Homo sapiens: one gene and its partner. The protein of the gene in region 2 interacts with the protein of the main gene of each other region in a pairwise test. Each region holds a gene or a part of one and is shown on either strand. Other genes may lie near its edges.

Region 1 (4,209 bases), on a different chromosome or scaffold from region 2:
GGTGACAGAGTGAGACTCTGTCTCAAAAAAAGAAAGAGTGTTTTCTCCCTCCACCTGTCCCACCACCCAGCCTAGAAGGAAGACTGTCTACCAGCCTGTGGATCATCTCTATCCTCCAGGAGGTGTGGAGGGGCTGGCCCAGGAGGACATTACATATGTCAGGACCCACAGTCAGGTAGGGCCAGGTGTTCATTGACCTACCAGCCACATGCAAACAAGAGGTCGTATGTGTCTGCCCTTTTCCCCTTCTCCTCTATACCATTTTAATTCTAAGCACTGTATAGACATCACCCATTTAATCCCTTAAGAATTCACCCAGATAGCTATTATTATTATTATCCCCAATTTACCAATGAGGAAATTGAGATTTAGGTAGTTAAAGTAATCTACCAAATCACACAGCTAGTGATGGGAAAAGCCCAGTTTCTAATCTAGTCTGCTCAATTTCAGAGTCCTGTGTCTAAGCATGCACAGCTCACCTGGGTCGTGAGCACAAGATGATAACTAAGAATGCAAAGCCTCTCTCCAGTTGCAGGGTCTTTTTTTTTTTTTTTTTTTTTTTTGAGACAGAATTTCACTCTGTCACCCAGGCTGCGCAATCTTGGCTCACTGCAACCTCTGCCTGCCAAGTTCAAGCGATTCTCCTGCCTCAGCCTCCTGAGTACCTGGGACTGCAGGTGCGTGCCACCACACCCGGCTAATTTTTTATTTTTAGTAGAGATGGGGCTTCACCATGTTGGCCAGGCTGGTCTCGAACTCCTGACCTCAAGTGATCCACCTGCCTCGGCCTCCCAAAGTGCTGGGATTATAGGCATGAGCCACTGTGCCTGGCACAGGGTCTTCTTTCAGGGTGGAGTAACTTTGTACCACTGTTAGTCAGTCTCCCTGGGTTGGGAAGGACAGGAAAGGACTGTACCCACTGCTGAGACACAGGGAGTCTGTCCAACTATGACATCATCATTGTTACATGGTGAGGTGGGGACAGACCTTGGAATAGGACCTGTGTCCGTAATGCTGATCCTGAGCCCTTCTCCGGCCAGGCAAGTCCCCCTTGTCATGCAGCATCATTCACGAAGGAACAGCAGCTTCACAGGGAGACCACAGTCACTCCATTACACTCCATGCAGCCAAAATTTGAAAGACTGTTTGCTTATTTTGTCTTACAGAGAGAGAGAGGGTGGCCTTGCTGTGTCTTGCATAAATGCACACATCAGTATGTTTCTGCAGTGTTTTAAGTTGTCTCTCTATGCTCTACATATCCTTTGACACCCATGGACTTATCGTAGACGCTACCAGAAGTAAGGGCATAGTGGTATACTTTAGAACTGTGAAACAGGCCAGCTGGAAGGACCATCTGGTCTACCCGCCCTGGTTGGGAGATAAAGAAATTGGAGAGGTAATGCAACCTGCCCAGTGACGCCCAGTATGTCAGTGGCAGAGCTAAGACTAGAGCCCCCCATTAGTTCCAGTGCCCAGAACCAGGTATCCCTTTCAGAGAGGATCTAGGAAGTTGCTGATGGAAATGACAACGATAACAATGAGAATCCCAGCAGGGAGGGAAGAACGGAGCGGTCTTTTGCTTCTGGTGCTTGTATTCTCATGGAGTGGATGCTGACTTGATCCAGAGGGGTGTGAAGGAAATTGGGCTCTCCCTTCAGGCACTCCTTCAGGAGGCAGGAGACGGAGGAGCAGCGAAGGAAGCTGTGGGAGCAGGGCAGCGGCAGGGGGTACAGAGGAAAGAAGAGGAGTCACAACAAAGGACAGAGGTATCTTGGGTGGGACAGGGGAGAAGGGCTGAGGAAGGGAGAGGGCAGCTTAGGGTCTGGAGAAAGTGGCAAAGGCCTGCCTTGAGGTTGCTCCCGAAGCAGAAGATCAGGCTGGGGCTGGAACCCAGGGGCCCCACACACCCGCCTGTCCCCCTGGCCTGCCTACTTCTCTTGAGAGCAACCAGAAACCAATACCGTATTTGTCTCCTTCTCCAAGGTAAAGGAGGAGCAAGTCAGAGCTCCAAGACTCAGGTTTTGCACACCCACAAATTCCATTTCCAAAGACCTGATGGAGACTTTGAGTCCCTTCCCTGGATTGCAGCCTCCCAGCAGAGCTCAAACAGAACACACACTCACCTCCATGAAGGGCACGGCACGACAAGAAACGTCACCCAGTAGCCTCTGCTTGGTGATCTCGTTGAAGATGACAATAGGGAGGCAGAAAAAGAGGACCAGAAAATCCCAGAGGGCCAGGCTGGCAAGGATGGAGTTCCAGGCACTCTTCAGGTAGTAGCTGTGCCACACGATGCACATGACCGACAGGTTGCCCACAATGCCCACCGCAAACACCACCAGCGCCAGAAGCATGATGGCATAGGCACTGTAGGAGCTCTCGGTCACCGGATACAGGGGGTTCTGGATCTGTAGCCTCTGCCCTGGTGCTCCTGTCAGATTGCCCCTCAGTTCCTGCCCACTGTCTGGGGTGCCCCCATCCTTGCCGGGGTTAGGGCTGGTGGCCACCAAGGGCTTGGTTGGCTGCAGGCCAGCAGGGTGAATGGGCCGGGGGTACTCCGCCCACTCCTCAGGCACATACTGCTGCACGCCCTTGGCCTCCTCATCCTCGGTGCCCCTCTTGGATCGGCTCTGCTGCTCCTGGGTCTCGGCTCTGTGCCTGCCCAGGTGCAGGGGGGCACCCCCAGAGACCCTGCTTAGCCCCACAGCCAAAATCACAGCAAGAGAGACAGCCAGGGGCCACAGCCACCGCATGGCTGGATGAGCAGGAGACAGCCAGCCCAGGAAGAGCAGGTGAGTGCAGGGGGCCCAAGAGCTGGGCTCCAGAGAGGCAGCTGGCCGGCTGGATCCGCCTCCAGTCAGGCGTCTGGCATCACTCGCCTGCCCTCCCTCCCAGCCTCCGGCCACAGGCCGGGCAGGGCCCTCTGCTGGACACATAGCACTCTTTGCTGCCCTCACACATCTCGTCCTCCACGACGCCGCTTCTCAGGCCCTACAGCATGTCAGGCTGTGGGGCCCTAAGAGGGCATCTGCTTCAGGCCCCTGAAACTAGGGAGGAAATGTGGCCTGCCTAGGGTGACACAGGGAGGTGGGGCAGAATGGGAACTGGGGCGCAGGTCTCCTGATTCTAAGGCAGCTCCTCCATTCAAAACTCAGCAATAACCATCACTGTCACTTACTGAACACTTACTAGGTGCTAGCACTCAGCTGGTTTCTCAATTAACCCTTGATTAATCTCAGATCACAAATCTGAGGTTTGTAGAGGTCAGTCACTTGCCACATAGTTGATACAAGGCAGAGCAAGGCCCACAACCCAGATCTGACTCCAGAGATTTCTAATTTTTTTTTTTTTTTCGGTTGCCCAGGCTGGAGTGCAATGGCGCGGTCTTGGCTCACTGCAGCCTCCGCCTCCTGGGTTCAAGTGATTCTCCTGCCTCAGCCCCCTGAGTAACTGGGATTACAGTTACTGTAGTGCCCGCCACCATACCCGGCTAATTTTTGTATTTTTAGTAGAGACAGGGTTTCACCGTGTTGACCAGGCTGGTCTCAAACTCCTAACCTCAGGTGATCCGCCTGCCTCAGCCTCCCAAAGTGCTGGGAGCCACCGCACCCGGCCTAAAACACCATATTCTGAGCCAGACACAAGATGTGTGGACATTTGCAATAACACGTCTTTACTGACTACGTGTTGTGTTCCAGACACTCAGAATACAAAAATGTAAAGGATCTCTGCCACCAATGAGCTTTCAGTCCAGAGAAGGAAGTAAATGTGTAAGTTCAGCATGATAGATGCTATGAAAGGCAAAGGTCATGATGCTGAGGGAACCCAAGAAAATCTGGGGGGGATCTGGAAGGCCTCCCAAGCGAGGTGACATTTGAATGGATCCCGAGAAATGGCTGTGAGCTTGCCTGACAGACTACGGGAAGGGAGGGTGCTCTAGGCAGAAGACACAGCACACACAAAGGCTGGGTGATGTGGAAGTGGGTGATGTTCCCGCAAGAGAGCAAGTCTGTCGAGGGGACTAGAGTGCAAGGGAGGTGGGGAGAGAGCATGGGCACTTGGGACAAAGAGCTTGGAAATATCAGCAGAGGAGGAACTGGACTGTAAAGGACTTTGTATGCCAAGCCAAGGAGTTTAGATTTTATCCCATAAGCAATGGAGAATATCACAGGTTGTTAAGTAGGCAAACAATGACTCAACTAAGTTATT
Region 2 (3,500 bases):
GTAGGTGGACCCCTAGCATGGGGAGAGCTGGCATGGCATGGCTGAGGGCCACTGAGAGGCCTGGGCAGGCACAAGGAACATGAGCTGCATGTTAGTAGTTAGGATGAAGTGCATGACAGCAATGACTAAGAATTCTATGTATATATATATATTTTTAGATGGAGTCTCGCTCAGTCGCCAGGCTGGAGTGCAGTGGCGTGATCGCAGCTCACTGCAACCTCCACCTCCCGGGTTCAAGCGATTTTCCTGCCTCAGCCTACCGAGTAGCTAGCTGGGACTAAAGGCGCGCGCCACCATGCCCAGCTAATTTTTTATTTTTAGTAGAGATGGGGGCGGGGGTTCACCATATTGGCCAGGATGGTCTCGATCTCTTGACCTTATGATCTGCCCGCCTCGGCCTCCCAAAGTGCTAGGATTACAGGTGTGAGCCACCTCACCCAGCCTTTTTTTTTTTTTTTTTTTGAGATGAAGTTTCGCTCTCATTGCTCAGGGTGGAGTGCAATGGCACAATCTTGGCTCATTGCAACCTCTGCCTCCCTGGTTCAAGCAATTCTCCTGCCTCAGCCTCCTGAGTAGCTGGGATTGATTACAGGCGCCCACCACCACTCCTGGCTAATTTTGTATTTTTAGTAGAGACCGGGGTTTCACCATGTTGATCAGTCTGGTCTCGAACTCCTGACCTCAGGTGATCCACCTGCCTCAGCCTCCCAAAGTGCAGGATTACAGGCATAAGCCATCGCGCCCAGCGAAGAATTCTAATACTTGACTTCTACAGTGTGCTACATTCATTTTCTCACTTGATCTGACAACCTGTGGTCAAGGAAGCAGCGTGGGCCTTGAAGCTAAACACACAGGATTTGGAACTCCCCACCCACTCTCACTGGGTCCTCATGCTAATTACTTATCTCTCTCAGCCTTAGTTTCCTCACGGAATAATATGCCTCCCAGGGTTAAGAGGAGTAAATGGGATCTTGTGTGTAAGGCTCTGGTGCTCGTAGCTGGTGTTCGTTATTCTTACTGTTCAAGTATTCTTACTGCCACGCCTTTCTTGCAGGTGAGTCCTGCAAATGTTAAGTGATTTGCTCAAGGTGCCCATTTCGCAGGAATTGGAGCCCAGGCCAGTTCTCTGAGCCTATCATTAGGGCTAAAGGTGAGCAGTCAAATGTTTTACCTCCGTGGGGGCTATTGGCTATTAGCTGCTTCCGAGTGAGGGACCTCAATGCAGGAAGCCACACTGTTGCCTTCTTGGTGTGAGTCCGTGGGACAGGGTGACTGCCTTGATGCCTGGGCCCGTGCTGCCTACATATTAGCTGAAAGCAGGGCCAGTCCTGTGGCTTTGCCCACTCACCTAGCGTTTAAGAGCAACTGCTCAGGGCTTTAAGCATTTGCCATGCCTGAAACCAGAGTTGGTTTCTGGGTTTATCAAGGACTTGTGGAAATCTCAAAATAAATCTCTTGCTTTCTGGACCATGAGTTGTTGCTTCCTCTTTTTTTCTCTGGACTTTCCCCAGAGGAAGAGAAAGCAGAAGTCTCAGGGCTGGAGACAGCTGAGGGGCATCAGCTGGTTCAAGGTGTGGAGTGTGGGCAGTGGAGTGAAGGCCTGGTTACCTCTCCAGTGAAGATTAGCCCCATAGAGCTTACTCTATGGGGAAGAACTTTTCTGACTCCTTCCTGTCTAGGGTAATAGTGGGGTGTTTGCTCTTTTCAGACTGTAATTTTTGCCTTCTTATCTTAGAACCCAAGGCCTGGGTGTTTGCGTAATTTAGCCTGGATTTTGATTCCTGTCCCTTTTTTCCTGGGGGGTATGGGGTGGTAATTCTTTACCTTCTGGTCCTGTGAGGGGAGAGGAATCCCAGGACTCTGGGTCTTGGGCCTTGGCATCTGGCCTTCGCCAGGGCCAGCCATAGCCTTGAGTTTGCTGCTCTGTCTGGGCACTGCCAGGTGCTGGGGTGGGGCCTCAGTCATTGTGACTGAAGATCAGGCCCACCCAGGCATTGAGGCCTCGGGCGGGGGGTGGTGCCCAGGCTGATGCAGGGGAACTGAAGCAAAAAGATTCCATCCCACAGGCCAAGAGCTAAATCAGTGTTACCTCCTTTAGCCAGAGAACTGGGTGCATCTGAGCCAGTGGAGATTTGTGACTTCTCCTTCTTCTAGGAGTGCGTGATCAGAATGGTGTCTGGACGGTTCTACTTGTCCTGCCTGCTGCTGGGGTCCCTGGGCTCTATGTGCATCCTCTTCACTATCTACTGGATGCAGTACTGGCGTGGTGGCTTTGCCTGGAATGGCAGCATCTACATGTTCAACTGGCACCCAGTGCTTATGGTTGCTGGCATGGTGGTATTCTATGGAGGTGGTGAGTAAGAGGTCAGGAAGGGAGGCGGGATAGGGCTCAGGCTGGACAAAGCTGCACTTTCCCTCTCCAAGGCTGGCCTTTGTAAATGTTGGGCTTGGGGCTATGGGGGTAGGGTGGGTTGGGCTGTCTCTGGGCCTAGCTGTCATTTGGGGGAGGAAGGGGTTAAGATGGGGGGCATCTCAGAAGGGTGGCTTCACAAATACTCTAGGGCAGGAGTTGGCAAACTTTCTATAGAGGGTCAGATAAATATTTCAGTTTTGCAAGACAGAATCTGTGTTGCAGTTACTCAGCTCTGCCACTGTATTGTGAGAGCAGCCATAGACAACACATACACACAAGTGTGGATCACGTGTTCCAATAAAGCTTTATTTGCAAACATAGGTAGCGAGCTGGATTTGGCCTTTGAGCTGTAGTGTTTTTTTTTTTTTTTTTTTTCTCTAGACGGAGTCTTGCTGTGTCGCCCAGGCTGGAGTGCAGTGGCGTGATATCGGCTCACTGCAAGCTCCACCTCCCAGGTTTGCGCCATTCTCCTGCCTCAGCCTCCCGAGTAGCTGGGACTACAGGCGCCTGCCACCGTGACCGGCTAATTTTTTTTTGTATTTTTAGTAGAGACAGCGTTTCACCGTGTTAGCCAGGATGGTCTTGATCTCCTGACCTTGTGATCTGCCCACCTCAGCCTCCTGAAGTGCTGGGATTACAGGCTTGAGCCATCATGCCCGACCTGAGCTGTAGTTTTTAACCAGCTCTAGAGAACAGGAGATTGAAGCCTCTCATGGTTTAGTCAGGCCACCGAATGAGGGACTTGCTTGCTCTTCCGGGATCCATCTTTTTTTTTTTTTTCTTTTTTTGAGATGGAGTTTTGCTCTTGTTGCCCAGGCTGGAGTGCAATGGCGTGATCTTGGCTCACTGCAACCTCCGCCTCCTGGGTTCAGGCCATTCTCCTGCCTCAGCCTCCCAAGTACCTGAGATTATAGGTGCCCGCCATCATGCCCAGCTAATTTTTATATTTTTTAGTAGAGATGGGGTTTCACCATGTTGGTCAGGCTGGCCTCGAACTCCTGACCTCAGGTGATCCACCCGCCTCTGCCTCCCAAAGTGCTGGGATTACAGGTGTGAGCCACTGCGCCCAACCTGGGATCCATCTTTG

The links.
Region 1: the proteins of CYB561A3 (region 2) and GPR37L1 interact in binary tests that used the Homo sapiens proteins (3 or more experiments, as listed by UniProt).

Annotation. Positions count from the first base shown.
Region 1 is NC_000001.11:202,121,508-202,125,716, reverse strand, and holds the start of GPR37L1 (G-protein coupled receptor 37-like 1 precursor), read right to left. Parts: upstream 2,801-4,209; 5' UTR 2,754-2,800; coding exon 2,124-2,753; exon of another isoform or gene 1,984-2,123; intron 1,767-1,983; exon of another isoform or gene 1,659-1,766; intron 176-1,658; exon of another isoform or gene 1-175. UniProt on the Homo sapiens protein: G-protein coupled receptor. Has been shown to bind the neuroprotective and glioprotective factor prosaposin (PSAP), leading to endocytosis followed by an ERK phosphorylation cascade. However, other studies have shown that prosaposin does not increase activity.
Region 2 is NC_000011.10:61,355,383-61,358,882, reverse strand, and holds part of CYB561A3 (lysosomal membrane ascorbate-dependent ferrireductase CYB561A3), read left to right. Parts: intron 1-1,054; 5' UTR 1,055-1,150; intron 1,151-1,511; exon of another isoform or gene 1,512-1,644; coding exon of another isoform or gene 1,645-1,680; exon of another isoform or gene 1,681-2,154; coding exon of another isoform or gene 2,155-2,169; coding exon 2,170-2,353; intron 2,354-3,500. UniProt on the Homo sapiens protein: Transmembrane reductase that uses ascorbate as an electron donor in the cytoplasm and transfers electrons across membranes to reduce iron cations Fe(3+) into Fe(2+) in the lumen of the late endosome and lysosome.